2 separate regions of the Homo sapiens genome follow, and region 2 is linked to region 1. The links come from fine-mapping of genetic effects on gene expression. A gene starts in region 1. The other region holds a variant in brackets. All regions are shown on one strand. Distances are from middle to middle. Region 1 holds the start of LRRC4B (leucine rich repeat containing 4B). Region 2 has its middle 10 kb from the start of SNAR-A4.

Region 1 (9,399 bases):
CTACTAAAAATACAAAACTTAGCCGGGCATGGTTGTGCACGCCTGTAGTCCCAGCTACTCGGAGGCTGAGGCACGAGAATGGGAGGTGGAGGTTGCGGTGAGCCAACATCGCACCACTGCACTCCAGCCTGGGTGACAGAGCGAGGCCCTGTCTCAAAAAAAATAAAAAAGGAGAATTGGGGTAAGGCATAAGGCCAAGCAGCTTAGCACCCATGGTGGTGCGAGCCACCTTCCCATAGCTTCCTATCATGGGTGGCAGTCTTGTTATATCACAGCCCAGGTGAAAGGTGCCTGGGAGTTGTCCAGTGCAACTGTGTGGAACTAAATAACAGGAACATCTGAGTGGCTGTGATTCCTTTAGCCATTGTCCCCCATGAGTCCCACTTTGAGAGATTTTTCTGAGCAAACCAAACTACATTAAGTGAAAAGTTCATTCATTTTCCCATATTTTATTTATCAAAGGTATACCAAACTGCCGATCATAGCTTCTGATTGGGGTGAGACAGGCAGTGAACACACTGAGTGGATAATTTTTTTTACAGCCTGAAGCAAAGAAATTTGAAATTTAACCTCTGAAATCCCATCCCGAAGGAAATGTACAACTTCCATTTTTTTTTTGTCTGTTTTTGTTTTTTGGTTTTATTTTTTGAAATGGTGAAAATACCTTTGAGCACTCATTACTGTGGAGGGTCACTGTCCCTGTCTCTTACCTAATACCATTTCTGGGACATCAGAGTCCCCAATCCATGTTGACAACATGAATCAAAACTGAGGATCAGTGTTCCAGTTGCTCAGGACAGTCACCTGAGTGGGAGATTAGAGTTAAGCCTTAGGGCAAGGTTTAGGGGACAGTGGGAAGCGTTAAGATTTGGTTTTGTGTTTGAGCCAAACCTGGGGCCGCATCCTCATCTTTTTCCACTCTGCTTCTCTTCTTCCTCCACGCCACACCTATCTGGCTCCCATCTCTCAAACGGGCCCGGCTTGCTGCCATCTGGGGGCCTCTGCCCCAGGTGCTTGCCCCTGTGCACGCAATGAGCTATCTCCTTATTTTGGCCTCGCCACAAAAGACACCTCCTCCAGGAGGCCTCCCCTGATCACCTCAAGTCTGTCCTCCTGACCGCCCACCAACTTCTCTCCTCCCTAATTGTCCTCTTATTTTCTTCATTGCTCACACTGCTCTTGGAAATAGGACCTTGAGGGGTCAGTTCCACGGGGACAGGGGCTGTCTCCTTACTGTTCTCCGGCCGGGCTCTCAAAGCCCTGAACAGTGCCCGGTGCTGAAGACCCTTGATGAGCTCTGGAGGTTGACGGCAAATCATTTCTCCTTCAGTAAAACAGGGGCAGTCATACCCTCCAGGCAGGGCTGAGACTTAGGCTGCATGGACCAAGAGGGTTCGCTGGTTGTTCAAATATTGGAATACTTCCCTGCTTCTCTAACGGCCCCACCTGACACGGCTTGGCCTCTCACCTGAGACCCTCTTGGTTTGTTTTTTGAGACTGAGTTTCGCTCTGTCACCCAGGCTGGAGTGCAATAACGTGATCTCGGCTCACTGCAACCTCTGGAGGCCTCCCGAGTTCAAGTGATTCTCGTGCCTCAGCCTCCCGAGTAGCTGGGATTACAGGCGCGCACCACCATGCCTGGCTAATTTTTGTATTTTTAGTAGAGATGGGGTTTCACCATGTTGGCCAGGCTGGTCTCGAACTCCCGACCTCAAGTGATCCTCCCGCCTCGGCCTCACAAAGTGCTGGGATTACAGGTGCGAGCCACCATGCCCGGCCGAGACCCTCTTGTAATGAAAGGGTTAACTCAGGGCTCATCAGGGGCCTGCTCTCACCTGTGCCCACCAGGTACCACCATCCCTAGGAGTTGGTACCGCATGGTTGCAGGATTGATGCCACGCTTGTGAGGTGCTGGGCACAGCATCTGGCCTGTGGGAGACCAGGAGGAACCGCGGGCTGCCACCATGTGATTCTGTTTTGCTGGTATCACCATCGGTCCTGGCCTACTCTGTGCTGGACCCTGGTGCACACACACATTCACTGGTCCAGTCTCACGAACTAGACTTGAGCGGCGCCAGGGGCGGGTGAAACCCGAAGCACCACAGCCACCTGCCACTCCCTGGCCCTCGCCCAGCCCCTTCTCAGTTTCCCCTCTCGGCAGCTCTCAGGGCTCAGCACCCACCAGCGCCCACCCAAAACCGCCTCTTCCGAACCCATCTGTGACCTGGCTTCTCTCGGGAACCCTGGCTCATTATAGATGTGTCTGGCCCACTTTCCTTCCAGCTTCCAACCCTGACTCTCCCCAGGCTCTGCCTGCAGGGGTACAGCCACACTTTCCCTCCCTGGGGCTCTCCGAGGAGAAGGGGAAGAGGGAGAGTCTGTCCCGGGTCCCCTGGCACTGAAAGAAGGAACCTTCATCTTTCTTCTCTCTCTCCTGAGTCCTCAGTTATTAGTCAGCGTTTTGGGGGATAACAAGGCAGGGGTGAAACTTCTGTGCTAATTTTAACATCTGGAAGGATCTTCAGTGTCCTGGACAGGGGCCACCCCTCCTTCTGGGTTTCTCCGCCCCTGATTCCCGATGTCCCCCTTCCTTGGGGCCCAAGCTTTTGGGGTAGTGGACCGGGGAGGTAGAGGGGAGGGTCACGGTGACCTCCCAGAGGCCTCTGCATCTGCCCTCCCCCTCCCTGCACCCAAGATGCAGCTCAGCTTCACAGCTCTAAATGCGTCCCCAGCACCCGCTGCCAACACCTGGGGGAGGTGAGAGGAGAGTGAGTAGGGAGGCTGCAGGCTGTGCCCTCTGCCCCTCCCAGGTGCCTCCACCTGCCAAGTCTGGACCAGGGACGAAAGCTAGGAACTGACCCATTCTCCATCTCCCTCAGGGTACCCCCAGCCCAAGACTGCATTCAAACCCCATCCTGGCTCCTCCAAGAGCTCAGTGGTCTCTTCTGGAAAATGGGTTTGAAGGTTCTTCTCTTCATGAGGTGGAGGGGCGGACGAAGCGGGCATACAGCGGAGTTCAAGAAAGGCCCTCTGTCCCCTCCCCCACTCTGTCTACTCCCCGGGCTCTTGCCACCCAGTCTTGGGCCCTCAAAGCTCCAGCTCCCCAGCTTCTCTCCTCTCCCCCGAGATCTTTCTCCTCCCCCCTCCCCCCGACGGGTCCTTCCCTCCCTCTTCCATCCTCTCATCTCTGTCCCACTTAGATCCTCCTGCCTCTTCCGGGTCCTGCCAGCTTCCCCTGCTCTTCCTGACAACGCACACCGCACCCCCCATTCTTCTCCCCACAGCCCCCGCCGCCCTCCAGGCCCCTCTGTCCCCTGCAGCCCTCAAAGTTAGGCCTTCCCTACCTCCTCTTTCCCCTCACTTCCCTGCCCCTGGGCCTCTCCTGCCCATCTCTCTACCCATCTCCCCCTCCACTCCTCCTCTCCCTCCTTTCCTCTTCCTCTACCCACTCCCCCTGCCCCCCGCCCTCCCCTCCCCTTCATCCAGGACCTTATTGCAGGAGTTACCCCCTCCTCTCCCCTCCCCTCCCACACCCTCTCCCCTTTCCCTCCTCTCTCCCCTGCTCCTCCCCTTTTTCTCCCCCTCTTCTTTCTTCCACCCCCTTCCCACTTCCTTCCTTCTTTCCTCCCCTTCCCTCTTCTTTCCTCCCCCCCTTCCCCTTCCCTCCCGTCTCCCTCTCCTTTCTTCCCTCCCTCTCCCATCCTCTCCGGTTCTTCCCCCCTCTTTCCTTCCTCCCTCTCCACGCTGCCCTCCCTCCCCTCCCTCTCTCCCCCCTTCCTCTCCTCCCGGGCCTCCCTCCCTGCTCCCTCCCTCCGCCCGCCCGCTCCCACCATCATCAGTATTCCGCTCCCGTCTCCGCCGCTCTCGGCTGCTCTCGGTCGCTGCCGCACCGTCCGAGGCGGGGGCCGGGGCCGGGGCCGGGGCCTGGGGGGGGGTGGGGTGGGGGGAGAGCGGCGCCGGCGGGCCCGAGGAGGGAGGAAGGAAGGAAGGAAGGCTGGAAGGAAGGAAGCCAGGAAAGAAAGAAGGAAAGAAAGGAAGGCAAGAAGGAAGGCGGGCGGCGGGCGAGGGCGCGGGGCCGGACGGCAGGCGGGCGCGAGGCGAGGAGGCAGAGCGGCCCCCCCAGCCCCACCGCCGCCGCTGCGGAAGCCCCCTCCCCACCCAGGAGCCGGGGAGGGGGGAGAGCGCGAGAGGCTCCAGGCCCGGCCGCAGCCCCGCCCCCCGCGCCTCCCCGCAGCGGGCCTTGCACCCCAAATTCCTGAGCCTCATTGGGGGGGTCCTCCCCCCACGGGCCGGGCATGCTGCCCCCCGGAAGGAACCCCTCTCCTCGCTGTGAGTAGCCGCCAAGGGGCACGGGTCGGGGGCGGGGGCCGGAGGCGGAACCGCGGGGGGTGGGTGGGGGGCATTCGCTAATTGGGGGACAGTGGTCTTAGGCCTCCTCCGGGATGGGGGGGGATGGCAGAGGACAGGGGGCGGGGCCTAATGGGAGGCAGAAGCCGGTGGGGGAGGCGACTGGGTGGGGGTTCTCCGGGCAGGGCGAGTTCTGTGCTGTGGGGGGGGTGGTTGTCGCCGCTGCCTGGGGACAGGTTGTGGGGGGTGCGTCCGGCGGTCGCTGCGTATCCAGCTGTGGGGCTGAGGAAGTAGGCTTAGGGTGGGGGGCTCTCCGGGCGTAGGTCCGGGCCCCCCTTTCTGGGGCGGGAGTCCAGGTTCTTCCTCTCCCCATGGCCCCTCCCACCCTCCACACCGCTGCTGCTTGGGGTGGGGGGGGCACGCCAGTGATGGGGAGGGGGGAGAGGCGGGCACGGGGTTTCCTTGGTGACCGCGCCTGGCAAGAGCGGTTGCCGTGGCAACCGGGGAGAACCGGGGAGTTTGGGAAGTGAAAATGGGAAAGACGGAGGGGGTGATTGGGGAGTGAGACAACCCCCTCCCCAGTCTTCAGCCCTTCTCCCTCTGGGGTCACCCCGCCTCTCCTGGTGGGCGGCTCGGACCCCTGCCCCTCCGTCTCTCCAAGACCCCCGTTCCCTGACCCCACTAGGCTTTGGGGCCTTCTATCCTTGGGCACGTGTCTCTCCAGGACCACTGCCTCTCCCACCTCCCTCCGCCCTCCCCTCCTGGAAACCTCTCCTCCTGGAGACCCCCGCCCCCCATTTGCTGCCTCCTCCCCAGGCTTCCGACCCTCACACCTGCTCTTCTAGGACCTTCTAAGACACGGCATCTGCTCCTCAGCCTTCTCTAACCCCCATCTCTGACAATCCCCCAGATATCCCTCTCCAGACCTTCTGTCCAGGAGACCCTCACTTCAGCCGCCCTCTCCTCTAGCTCCCTCCTCCCACTCCCTCCCCGCCCCTCTTTGGGCCTTGCACCCCAGCCTCTCCCCTTTCTCCCCAACACCCCCAGTCGCCTTCTCCTTAGCCCATCACTCTCTGAAACATCCTTCTATGACCTTTCATCACCCAGAGACCCCCTCCATCGTTGTCTCCTCACCCCATAGTACTCCCCAGTCTCAGACCCCCCCAATCCTAGCTCTCTCCTTTTGGGAGCCTCTCCTTCCAACTCACCATCAATCCCGGGCTCTCAGGGTTCCCCCCATCTCTATGCCCCTGCCTCCCTGGGGTCCTGTCCTGCCAGGGGCCCAGCCAGTCTCTCTCCAGGACTCGAGTCTCCAGAGCCCAGGATGGCCTCTTGCCCACCCCTCCACCCCTTCGCCTCCTCTCTGCACCCCCATCTCCTTCCCCAGACCTCCTCACCTCTGCTCTCCTCCTAGGCGCCCTCCCCTCCTCCCTGCCCCCTCCCCGCAGCCTCTGGTGACTTTCTGTCGGGGTGGGGAATTCCCCTGGGGAGAGCCCAGCTGGGAAGGGGGAGGGGGAAGGGAGCCTCGGGGCTGCCCCTCGGCCCCCTCCCCGCCCCCCTCTCCAGCTGGGAGCTGCAGTGGCGCCTCCGCAGCGCCCCATTGCTATGCGCCTCACATCCCAAGTCCCGGCCGCGCAGCCGCCAGACAGGAACTCGGGCTCCAGGCAGCTGGGAGTAGCCGGAGCCGGCTTCCCTCCTGGTCCAGGAGCCTGAAAACTCCCGCCCCCCACCCCCGGACCGCGGCCAGGACCGCACCTCCCTCTTCCTGTAGCATCTTCCGCAGCCTTCGCCTTCTAACCTGCCTTTCCGCAGCCTCCACTTCGCCTTCCCACCTTCCTCCTCCTCCTCCTCCCTGGGGCTCCTCTCCTCCTGGCCACCGGATTGTCCAAACGCACACAGAGAAATGAGGGACAGAGAGTGAAGCCGCCGAAAGGCGGGGAGAGAGACCCAAGGAAGGGAAGAGTGGGAGCCAGGGAGGGAGGCACAGAGGGAGAGAAGGGACCCAGCCTCCGAAACACACATACAGGCAATTAGGGCATCAGCACGGAGTCACGGAGTTACTCACTTAATTTCCGAAAGAAAGAGTCGGGGAGCCGGGGACACACGCCACTCCCACCCAGAGAGCAGACACGCGGGTGAGGCAGAGACGCAGGGAGCCACAGACTCAGGGAGGGTGGGACAGACCCGCGGGGTGCCTGCTGGGGCCAGCAGGGAGCCGGGGGACACTGGCCACCAGAGTTCTGGGGGATTAGAGGCCGCTTCTGACTTGTCAGAGGGACCCCAAGTCAGCAAGTCAGCGACAGAGAGTGGGAGCGTGCGAGGAAGACACGGGGCACGTGGAGGCAAAGATTCCCCTGGCAGGTACACACACACACACACACACACACACACACACACACGAGAGCACACAGTCATTCACTGGCAGCCAGAGACCCCGATATGGAACCAGAGAGGCCCAGTTGCAGACGCAGCCCCCACACTCAGTCAGCCAGTGGTCAGGAGAGACAGGGAGCAGTCCCCAGACCTGTAGTCGTGTGTCACACAGAGACACACACAGTCCTTCGTACACAGACCTGGAGGGAGAGACAAAGGCAGGAGGCCCTTGCCTTGTGGTCCTGTGGCCTCGTGGCCTCACGCCTACGGACAGACACAAGGCAAAAGGCACGGAGGTGGCCCCAGAGCTACAGAGATGCAGCCCCAGGTGCCGCTAAGACAGTCACAGAGCTGTGCACTGTGGCGCACACACCAAACCGAGTGCCAGCGTCGGAGGCACGTGTGTGCACTGCAGGGAGGGCCAGCCCCATCCAGCAGTCACCCTTAATCCCACTCAGAGACAGCCCTGAGAGTGTTCCTCTCGCCACGGGGCTCCTCAGGGACCTCCTCGCCGTCCGAGAGGTCAGCAGAATTAAGACATCAGGTATCAGAGGGCGCTGGCATCTCTCACAAGCAGAGCCTGTGCACACATGTGCCTGCACACACACCCTCAGGGCCCATGCAGAGAGGCCGATCTTCAGGCAGAGGTGCTGTGGGTTGGGGATTGGGGGCGGGGGTGGCCGCTGAATCCTCAGTCCCTTCCGGAACCCTGGCCCTGCTTTCTTGCCAGGGTCCCCACCCCCTCAATCACCTGTCTCACCTGCTAGGACACCTGCTGTGTAGCTCACACTGGTTCTCTCTCTCCATCCTCTCTCCCTGCATTTCATCCCTTCTCACCCCACTCTCTCTGGCCGGGCATCTGTCTCGAGGTGTCACCTGGACCTCCTGTCTCTGTCAAGCCGTCTCGCCTCTCCATCTCCCCTCATCTTCCCTGGGACTGACCCTTTGCCCTCCCAGCCCCCAATGTCTTGCTGACCTGGCCCATCCGTCTAGTCTGTGGACTCATTCATCAGTCTTTCCCTCTCCCACCCCATCTGCTGTGAAACCTGCCTCTATTTCTGTCTCTGCTCGACACCGCTCTCTGTGCCTCCCTTCTTTGTCCCTCTGTGTCACTCGCCCTCACCTCTGCTGCTGTTCCTGCCAGCCTGTCTGCCTCCCCGCCTCCCCTGCTCCTTCCCCGTGGCTCCCTCTCCCCACATCCCTGAGGACTCACTTACCTGGGGTCCTCCGGGCGGCCCAAGAGGGTTATTTTCCCCCAGTGCTTTCAACATGTTTAATTTGTTGCCAACATTTTTTAAATTAGAGATTTTGCATAAAAATCTAGACTGTCAGCTTTTGGAATCGTCTTCCCCCTGGATAACTGTGGGTTGTGCTCAGGTGCAAAGGGCCACCACTCCCCACTCTCCCCTCTAACCAGCATCGGGATCATCTTCCCTGCTGGGCTCCATAGACAGAGGAGTTTGCAACCTCTGCTGTTTGCTCCTCTTCCTCTCTGCTCCATCTCTTTGTGCCCTGTCACCCTCTCCACTCTCCTTCCCTTGGTTTCCCTTGCCGGGTCCTCTCTCTGCCCCTCCTCCTTCATCCCCCCATCAGTTTGCCCTAACTCCAAGCCTCACTTTGACTGGGCCCTGTTTCCACTTAAATGGCCTCCTTCCCTTGCCGAGAGCAGGAAGAGTCTTATCCTTCTCTGGGAGAAGTGGTTCTTAAGACTGCCAGGACGCAGAGCACACGCCCATTCTCCAGGACCAGGATCTGCTGTGAAACTGCCAGCCCCTCACAGTGTTGGAAAGTCAGCGTTGCGTGAAGGCACCATGTTGCAGCCTGTCCTTCTCAGCTGGCTGATGGCTGGGGTGGGCCACAGACCCCACACTCTTGTCCCCAGCATGTGGCATCACAGCCCGTAGGCAGGGGGTGGGCTTCTCTGTACACCAGGCTGCACATTTGGCCCCAGAGCAGGTGGAGAGCAGGGGCTGCCTTAGAGGACCTGGGATGCGGACGCTGTTTCTGGAGGGAGGGCCTCACCTCCAGATAGGGGTGCAAAGGACAGGGCTCCCCTCTGTGCCTGGCAGCGCTCAAGCCCAGCAGCATCCCCTCCACCATCACCCTTGCTGGGTGAAGGGGGCACGTCTTTGTGTCCTCTCTGGTGGGGTACGGGAAACCTCATTAACTCTGAGTTTGGAGACCCTTTGTCCCCACTGGGGAGAACCTCCCTTCCCTTCGAGTCCCAGTTCCTGAGGCTGGGCTGGCTCCGCCAGACAGGGGGTGGCAGGAGAGTAAGGAGAGTGGCAGGATGCCCCTTGTTGCCTGGAAACCCACGCGCAACTGTTGTCATGGCAGGCAGAGGTGGAGGGGCTGCCTTGGAGACCCACGAGAGGGGCTGATGGGGGCTCACTGCGGGAGGCAGGCGGGAGCCCAGGGGACTGCTGTTTCCCCAGGAGGGCTGCTGAGAGTGAGAATGGGGGGTGTCTGGTAGTATCTGGGATCCTGGTGGGAGGTTGAGAGACCTAGACAGAGACAGGCCAGGCATGGTGGCTCACGCCGTCTCAACACTTTGGGAGGCTGAGGCGGGTGGATCACCTGAGGTCGGGAGTTTGAGACCAGCCTGGCCAACATGGTGAAACCCCGTCTCTACCAAAAATACAAAATCAGCCAGGTGTGGTGGTGTGAGTCTGTAATCCC
Region 2 (9,399 bases), 490 kb after region 1:
TGCCCTTAATCCATTTAACCCTGAGTGGACACAGCACATGTTTCAGGGAGCACAGGGTTGGGGGTAAGGTCACAGATCAACAGGATCCCAAGGCAGAAGAATTTTTCTTAGTACAGAACAAAATGAAAAGTCTCCCATGTCTACTTCTTTCTACACAGACACGGCAACCATCCGATTTCTCAATCTTTTCCCCACTTTTCCCCCCTTTCTATTCCACAAAACCGCCATTGTCATCATGGCCTGTTCTCAATGAGCTGTTGGGTACAACTCCCAGACGGGGTGGTGGCCGGGCAGAGGGGCTCCTCACTTCCCAGTAGGGGCGGCCGGGCAGAGGGGCTCCTCACTTCCCAGTAAGGGCGGTCGGGCAGAGGTGCCCCTCACCTCCCAGACGGGGCGGCTGGCCGGGAGGGGGGCTGACCCCCCCACCTCCCTCCCGGACGGGGCTGCTGGCCTGGCGGGGGCTGACCCCCACCTCCCTCCCGGATGGGGTGGCTGCCGGGCGGAGACTCTCCTCACTTCCCAGACGGGGTGGCTACCGGGCGGAGGGGCTCCTCACTTCTCAGACGGGGCGGTTGCCAGGCGGAGGGTCTCCTCACTTCTCAGACGGGGCGGCCGGGCAGAGACGCTCCTCACCTCCCAGACGGGGTCGCGGCCGGGTAGAGGCGCTCCTCACATACCAGACGGGGCGGCGGGGCAGAGGCGCTCCCCACATCTCAGACGGTGGGCGGCCAGGCAGAGACGCTCCTCACTTCCTAGATGGGATGGCGGCCGGGAAGAGGTGCTCCTCACTTCCTAGATGGGATGGCAGCCGGGAAGAGGCGCTCCTCACTTTCCAGACTGGGCAGCCAGGCAGAGGGGCTCCTCACGTCCCAGACGATGGGCGGCCAGGCAGAGATGCTCCTCACTTCCCCGACGGGGTGGTGGCCGGGCAGAGGCTGCAATCTTGGCACTTTGGGAAGCCAAGGCAGGCGGCTGGGAGATGGAGGTTGTAGCGAGCCGAGATCACGCCACTGCACTCCAGCCTGGGCGCCATTGAGCACTGAGTGAACCAGACTCCGTCTGCAATCCCGGCACCTCGGGAGGCCGAGGCTGGCGGATCACTCGCGGTTAGGAGCTGGAGACCGGCCTGGCCAACACAGCGAAATCCCGTCTCCACCAAAAAAATACGAAAACCAGTCAGGCGTGGCGGCGTGTGCCTGCAATGGCAGGCACTTGGCAGGCTGAGGCAGGAGAATCAGGCAGGGAGGTTGCGTGAGCCGAGATGGCAGCAGTACAGTCCAGCTTCGGCTCGGCATCAGAGGGAGACCGTGGAAAGAGAGGGAGAGGGAGACTGTGGAAAGAGAGGGAGAGGGAGACCGTGGGGAGATGGGAGAGGGAGAGGGAGAGGGAGAGGGAGATGGAGAGGGAGCGGGTTGTTTGTTTTCTTATTGTTAAGTTTTAGTTCTTTGTATACCAGCTTTCTTTTCTCTTTTTCTTTTTCTTTCTTTCTTTTCTTTTTTTTCAGACAAGGTCTTGCTCTGTTGCCCAGGCTGGAGTGCAATGGCGCAATCTTAGCTCACTGCCACCTCCGCCTCCCAGGTTCAAGTGATTCTCTTGCTTCAGCCTCCCGAGTAGCTGGGATTACAGGCACCCACCACCATGCCAGGCTAATTTTTGTATTTTTAGTAGAGACAGGGTTTTGCCACGTTGGCCAGGCTGCTCTCAAACTCCTGACCTCAGGTGATCCGCCCACCTCAGCCTCTCAAAATGCTGGGATTACAGATGTGAGCCACCACACCTGGCCTGGATACCAGCTTTTTGTCTGATAGGTGTTTTGAAAAGATTTTCTCACAATCTATAGCTTCTCTTTTTATTCTCTTAAACATCTGATTTTCCTATCACTCCTCTCCATGCAAAATATACATTTTTTGACTGGATCTTGCCAGGGATCTCAGAGTGAGAACAAGAGTCAGACCTGGCCAACCTGAGTACTTCATGACCTTGGTTATGATGTGCAGTAGTTTGGATGTATGTCCCATCCAATTTTTTTTTTTTTTTTTTGAGACAGAGTTTTGCTTTGTCACCCAGGCTGGAGTGCAGTTGCACAATCTTGGCTCAGTGCAACCTCCACCTCCTGGGTTCAAGTGACCCTTCTGCCTCCGCCTCCTGAGTAGCTGGGATTATAGGCACATGCCACGCCCGGCTAATTTTTGTATTTTTAGGAGAGACGGGGTTTCCCCGTGTTGGCCAGGCTGCCTTCTAAATTTCGTTCTTGAAATTGGATCCCCAATGTTGGAGATGGGGTCCTAATGAGAGGTGTTTGGGTCACAGGGGTGGACCCCTCACAAATAGATTAATGCCCTCCCTGGGAGTGTGGGTGAGTGAGTTCTTCCTCCATTAGTTCCCATTAGAGTTGGTTGTTAAAGAGAGGCTGACACTTGCCTCTCTTGCTTCCTCTATTGTCACATGATCCCTGCTTTCTTTCTCCTTCCACCAAGAGTGGAAGTAGCTCTAGACTTTCTCTGTATGCCCAATCTTCCAGCCAGCAGAATCATAAGCCAAATACACCTTTTTCTCTTTATAAATTACCCAGCCTCGTGGATCACTTTAGGTCAGGAGTTCGAGACCAGCCTGGCTAACATGGTGAAACCCTGTCTCTACTAAAAATACAAAAAATTAGCCAGGTGTGGTGGCGGGCACCTGTCATACCAGCTACACTGGAGGCAGGAGAATCACTTGTACCTGGGAGGCGGACATTGTAGTGAGCCAAGATTGCGCCACTGCACTCCAGCCTAGGTGACAGAGCAAGATCCTGTCTCAAAAAAAAAATAATAAAATAAAATAAAAATTACCCAGCGTCAGGTTTTCCTTTATAGCAAGACAACATGGACTAAGACACATGGTTACTATAGAAATGGACATGTGACCCAAGTTGGGCCAATGAGAGCTAACCTTGAGACTTTGGTATCACCATTCAGGAAGGCAGTACCCCTTTTCTGCTAGGTTGTTAAAATGATAAGCTAGGTTGTTAAAATGATAGTATGGAAGCTTCGAGCTGCTGTGGGCCCTGTTTGTCACCGTGAGGGAAGAGATTCTGCCTGAGAGGGAAGTCAAGATACAGAAAAGTAAAGCCCAGATGGGAAATGAGCGGTATTGCTAAAGATTCATTTTAGTGCCTGGATCCAGTTATGCCTGAAGCTAGTTATATAGCTCGGTTCTATAAGTCAACAAATTCCCTTTGTCAAAAACAAAAAAAGCCAGAGTACTTTCCAGAGAGCAAGGCTTATTATAATAATAATTAAAGCAGCATACTCTTGCAAGGAAAAACAAATAGACCAAAAGAACAAGACGGAAAAATCAGGAAAAGTTCACACATATACGGTAACTTGGTTTATGACAAAAGCAACATTTCAGTGCAGTGAGAAGCAAAAGATGATCTTTTTGGATAAATAGGGCTGAGCCAGTTGATAACCATATGACCTCTACCTCACACCATACACAAAAATTGATTCCAGATGTGTTGTAGATCTAAATGTTAAAGCTTAAACAATAAAACTTCTAGAAGAAAATATCATAGAGTATCTTCAGAACCTTCAGGGTAAGAAAATATTTCTTTTATTTACTTGTTTGTGTTAATAGAGATAGGGTCTCGCTATGTTGCCCAGGCTGGTCTCGAACTCCTAGGCTCATATGATCCTCCCTCCTCAGCCTCCCAAAGTGCTGAGATTACAGGCATGAGCCAGTGTGCCTGGCCAGAAAATATTTCTTAAACCAGAAACAAAGGAGCCTTAACTATAAAGGAAAATGTTGATAAATTGGACTATATTAAAATAGAAACTGATCCTCATCAAAAAATACCATTAAGAGAATGAAAAGACAAGCCAGAGAGTGGGAGAAGAATATGTATTCTAACAAAAGACTCATAAGAAAAATAAAGAAATAACTCCTACTAACCTGTTTTTTAAAAAAGGCAGAAAAACCAGTCGAAAAATGGACGAATGGCGTGAATTGACATTTCACAAAGTAGCATGTTCATATGCCCAATAAATATTTGAAACAGTGTTAAATTTCTTTCTTATTTTTTTTTTGAGACGGAGTCTCGCTCTGTCTCCCAGGCTGGAGTGCAGTGGCGTGATCTTGGCTCACTGCAAGCTCCGCCTTCTGGGTTCACGCCATTCTCCTGCCTCAGCCTCCTGAGTAGCTGGGACTACAGGCACCCGCCACTGCGCCCAGCTAATTTTTTGTATTTTTAGTAGAGACGGGGTTTCACCGTGGTCTCGATCTCCTGACCTCGTGATCCACC[C/T]GCCTCGGCCTCCCAAAGTGCTGGGATTATAGGCATGAGCCACTGCGCCTGGCCCAAAACGGTGTTAAATTTCTTTAGGCATTGGGCTAAAGGTAAATTAAAACCATAATAAAACACGGCTACAGCCCCACCAGAATTGCTAAAATTGAAAGGACTAACAATACCAAATGTTGGCGAGCAGCTGAAATTCTCAGAGACTGCTGGCGGGTGTATAAATGGAGAAAATTAGTTTGAAAACCTGGTTGGCAGTGTCTATTAAGGATGAACATGAAGCTGGGAATGGTGACTCATGCCTGTAATTCCAACACTTTGGGAGGCGGCGGATCACTTGAGGTCACGACCAGCCTGGCCACTCCCATCTCAAAAAAAAAAAAAAAAAGAGGAACATGCCCACACCATGCATACACCCTGGGACCCAGCAATTACACTTCTAGGTATATACCCAACAGAAATACAGAAATGCCTACATATGTTCACCAAAATTCAATGTATATAGCAGTACTGTAAGTGATCATGCCAAATCAGAAGGCACCTAAATGTCAATCAACAGTAGAATGGATACATAGATTATTATGTATTCCCATAACACACTTTTTTTTTTGAGACAAGATTGTCCTCTGTCACCCAGGCTGTAGTGCAGTGGTGTGATCTCAGCTCACTGCAATTTCTGCCTCCCAAGCTCAAGCCATCCTCCCACCTCAGCTTCCCAAGTAGCTGAGATGATAGGCACGCACCACCACACCCCACTAATTTTTGTATTTTTTTTGTAGAGACGGGGTCTTGCTATGTTGCTCAGGCTGGTCTTGAACTCCTGTGCTCAAGATATCTGCTTGCCTCACCCTCCTAAAGTGCTAGGATTATAGGCATGAGCCACCGTGCCTGGCTCATAACACACTCTTATACAGCAATGATAATGAACAACCTCCAACAATCAGCAACTACATGGACAAATCTCATAGACGTATGATGAATAAAACAATTCAGGCCAGGTGCAATGGCTCACGCCTGTAATTCCAACACTTTGGGAGGCCGAGATGGGCAGATCACGAGGTCAAGAAATAGAAACCATCCTGGCCAACATGGTGAAACCCTGTCTCTACTAAAAATACAAAAAATTAGCTGGGTGTGGTAGTGCGCACCTGTAATCCCAGCTACTCAGGAGGCTGAGGCAGGAGAATCGTTTGAACCTGGGAGGCGAAGGTTGCAGTGAGCTGAGATCATGCCACTGCACTCCAGCCTGGTGACAGAGCGACTCTCCGTCTCAAAAAAAAAAAAAAAAAAAAAAAAGAATTCCAACACACAAGTCTCTATGCTTGTAGGATTCCAAGCAGATTAAGATCAAAAACAAGGCAAACTGACTTATGGTGTCAGAAATCAGGGTAGTAGTTACCTTTGAGGTGAAGAAGTGACTGACAAGGGGCCGGGCGCGGTGGCTCACGCCTGTAATCCCAGCACTTTGGGAGGCCGAGGTGGGCAGATCATGAGGTCAGGAGATCGAGACCATCCTGGCTAACACGGTGAAACCCCGTCTCTACTAAAAATACAAAAAAATTAGCCAGGCATAGTGGCAGGCGCCTGTAGTCCCGGCTACTCGGGAGGCCGAGGCAGGAGAATGGCGTGAACCCAGGAGGCGGAGCTTGCAGTGAGCCGAGATAGCGCCACTGCACTCCAGGCGAGACTCTGTCTCAAAAAAAAAAAAAAAACACAAAAAAGTGACTGACAAGGAGCATGAGGGGTTTGGAGAGCTGGTAATGTTCTAGTTCCTGACCCAGGGCTGGTTACCCATGGTTACATGGTGTGCTCAGTCTGTCATCTGATCCATACTTACTGGGTATTTGTGAGTTTCTTTGTGAGTATGTTGTACTTCAATAATTTTTTTTTTGAAACTGGGTCTCTGTCGTCCAGACTGGACTGCAGTGGCTCAACCATGGCTCACTGCAGCCTTGACCTCCTGGGCTCAAGCGATCCTCCCACCTTAGCCTCTTGAGTAGCTGGGACTACAGGTGCACACCATGGCACTTGGCTATATATATATATATATATATATATATTTTTTTTTTTTTTTTTTTAAAGAGATGGAGTCTTGCTATGTTGCCAAGGCTGGGTCTCGAACTCCTGGGCTCTAGTGATCCTCCAATCTTAGCCTCTCAAAGTGCTGGAATTACAGGCATGAGCCACCGAGCTTGGCAATAATTTTTTAAAAGGCCGGTTTTTTGTCTCTTGAAAGTGCAGGAGTCTTGGCAAGTCTAGCAAATGGCATATACTATTTTGTTTCTCTTCCCTCCCCTTTCAAGTGAGAATTGTGATTGTTTTCTTGTTTTTCCTCCACTGTTATACACAGGGGTGGGTTGCTGAGGGGGCTACAATTTCATTTAACATTAATTTTTTTTTTAGATGGAGTCTTGCTCTGTCACCAGGCTGGAGTGCAGTGGCACAATCTCCACTGACTGCAACCTCCGCCTCCCAGGTTCAAGTGATTCTTCTGCCTCGGCCTCCCGAGTAGCTGGGATTATAGGTGTGTGCCACCATGCCGGGCTAATTTTTGTACTTTTAGTAGAGACAGGGTTTCACCATGCTGGCCAGGCTGGTCTTGAACTCCTGACCTCAGGTGATCCACTTGCCTTGGCCTCCCAAAGTGCTGGGATTACAGGTGTGAGCTACCGTGCCCAGCCTTAACATTAATTTTCAGGATCAAGAGAGACTCCATGTGCCCTTGATGAAAGGAATAGCCAATATCCAGAAATCTTGGTCTGAGGATTGGATGTGGCTTTGGGATCCCTCCCTTTGCAGAAGGGGTGAAAGCTTCTGCAGTTGCACTAGAGATAGTTATGTTAGGTGGGAGTATTAGTTTTAGCCAACTTTATCAAAATATAATTTGTGTACAAGAAAATGGATCAATATTTCAAAAAGATATTTGCAACCCACTTTCATAGCAGCATTATTTACAATACCCAAAAGGTAAAGGAGGCAACCCAGCTGTTCATCAACAAATAAATGGTTCGACAAAATGTGGTATATACACATAATGGATTTTTTTTTTGAGATGGAGTCTCGCTCTGTCGCCCAGGCTAGAGTGCAGTGGTGCGATCTTGGCTCACTGCAACCTCCGCCTCCCAGGTTTAAGTGATTCCCCTGCCTCAGCCTCCCAAGTAGCTGGGACTACAGGCGCCTGCCACCACGCCCGGCTAATTTTTTGTAGTTTAGTAGAGATGGGGTTTCACCATGTTGACCAGGATGGTCTCGATTTCCTGACCTCGTGATCCGCCTGCCTCTTCCTCCCAAAGTGCTGGGATTACAGGTGTGAGCCACTGCACCAGGCCCATAATGGAAAATTATTTAACCTTAAAAAGGAAGGAAATGCTAACACATGCTACAACATGGGTGAAGCCTGAGGACATTCATGCTAAGTGAAACAATCCCATCACAAAAAGACAGATGCTGTATGATTCCACTTACATGAGGTACCTAGAGTAGTCAAATTCATAGGGAATTTCCCAGAGAGTAGAACGTGCTTCCCAGGGGCTGGGAAGGGAAGGCAGTGGGAGTTGCTTGATGGGAACAGTTTCAATTCTACAAGAGGAAAGAGTGGAGATGAGTAGGGGTGATGATTGCACAACAATGCAACTGTACACTTAAAATTGGCTAAGTCCTGGGAAAGTGGCTCATGCCTGTAATCTCAGCTACTCTGGAAGCTGAGGCAGGAGAATCGCTTGAACCGGGGAAGCAGAGGTTGCAGTGAGCCAAGACCATGCCATTGCACTCCAGCCTGGGCATTGCAGCGAGACTCCGTCTCAAAAAAAAAAAAAATTGGCTAAGATGGTAAAGTTTGTGTTATGTGTATTTTGCAACAATGTACAAGAATTTAAATGAACCAATTTTAAACGCAATGAATTTTGACAAATGTATTCGGTTGTGTGATCACTTCCATCATCCGGAAAGTTTTCCTGTGTCCACTAGTAATCAGTCTCTCCATAACCACTGCCACTGCCCCCAGTCAACCACTAATCCATTTTCTGCCCCTGCGTATTAGCCTTTTCTTTTCTCTTTTCTTCTCTTCTCTTCTTTTCTTTTCTTTTACTCTGTCACCCAGGCTGGAGTTCAGTGGTGTGATCTCAGCTCACTACAACCTCCGCCTCCCAGGTTCAAGCCATTCTCCTGCCTCAGCCTTCCAAGTAGCTGGGATTACAGGCACTCGCTACCACACCCGGTTAATTTTTGTATTTTTAGTAGAGATGGGGTTTTACCATGTTGGCCAGGCTGGTCTTGAACTCCTGACCTCGTGATCCACCTGCCTCGGCCTCCCAAAGTGCTGGGATTACAGGGTGAGCCACCGTGCCTGGCCTCTGGCCCCTTTCTTTCTTTCTTTCTTTCTTTCTTTCTTTCTTTCTTTCTTTCTTTCTTTCTTTCTTTCTTTGTGTCTCTCTCTCCTTCCTTCCTTCTCTCTCTCTCTCTCTCTTTCTTTCTTTCTCTCTTTCTTTTTTGAGTTGGAGTCTCACTCTGTTGCCCAGGCTGGAGTGCAGTGGCATGATCGGCCCACTGCAACCTCCGCCTCCCGATTCTCCTACTCAGCCTCCCAGGTAGCTGGGATTACAGGTGCCAGGCTGCTTTTGAACTCCTGATCTCAAGTAATCCGCCTGCCTCAGCCTCCCAAAGTGCTAGGATTACAGGCGTGAGCCACCATGCCCCGCCCATATTAGTGTTTTCTTTCTACAATTTCACAAAAGTGGAATCCTACAGCATATACCCTTGTATCTGGCTGTATCACACGGCATCATGTTTTTGAGATGCAGGGCAGCAGTGCCATCACAGCTCACTGCAGCCTCAAACTCCTGGGCTCAAGTGATCCTCCTGCCTCAGCCACCAGAGTAGCTGGGACTACAGGTGAGCACCATCATGCCTGGATAATTTTACTATTATTATTATTACTACTATTAGTTGTAGAGACAGGGTCTTGCTATGCTGCCCAGGCTGGTCTCGAACTCCTGAGCTCGAGCAATACTCCCACCTCGACCTCCAAAGTAGCTGGAACTACAAGTGAACATCACCATGCCCGGCCAATTTTTTTTTTTTTTTTTTAAGAGAATCTCACCATATTACCTGGTCTCAAACTCCTGGGC

The links.
Region 2: its variant is fine-mapped to the expression of LRRC4B in prostate (GTEx, PIP above 0.99). The same link has a PIP of 0.9 or more in aorta.

The regions. Positions count from the first base shown.
Region 1 is chr19:50,562,874-50,572,272 of GRCh38, reverse strand. LRRC4B (leucine rich repeat containing 4B) reads left to right here and starts at 3,838. Exons shown (of 3, transcript NM_001080457.2): 1 at 3,838-4,329.
Region 2 is chr19:50,077,695-50,087,093 of GRCh38, reverse strand. No RefSeq gene overlaps it. Among named protein-coding and RNA genes, the nearest start is that of SNAR-A4, 10 kb to the left of the region's middle. The variant C/T (reference allele first, on the strand shown) is at 4,283.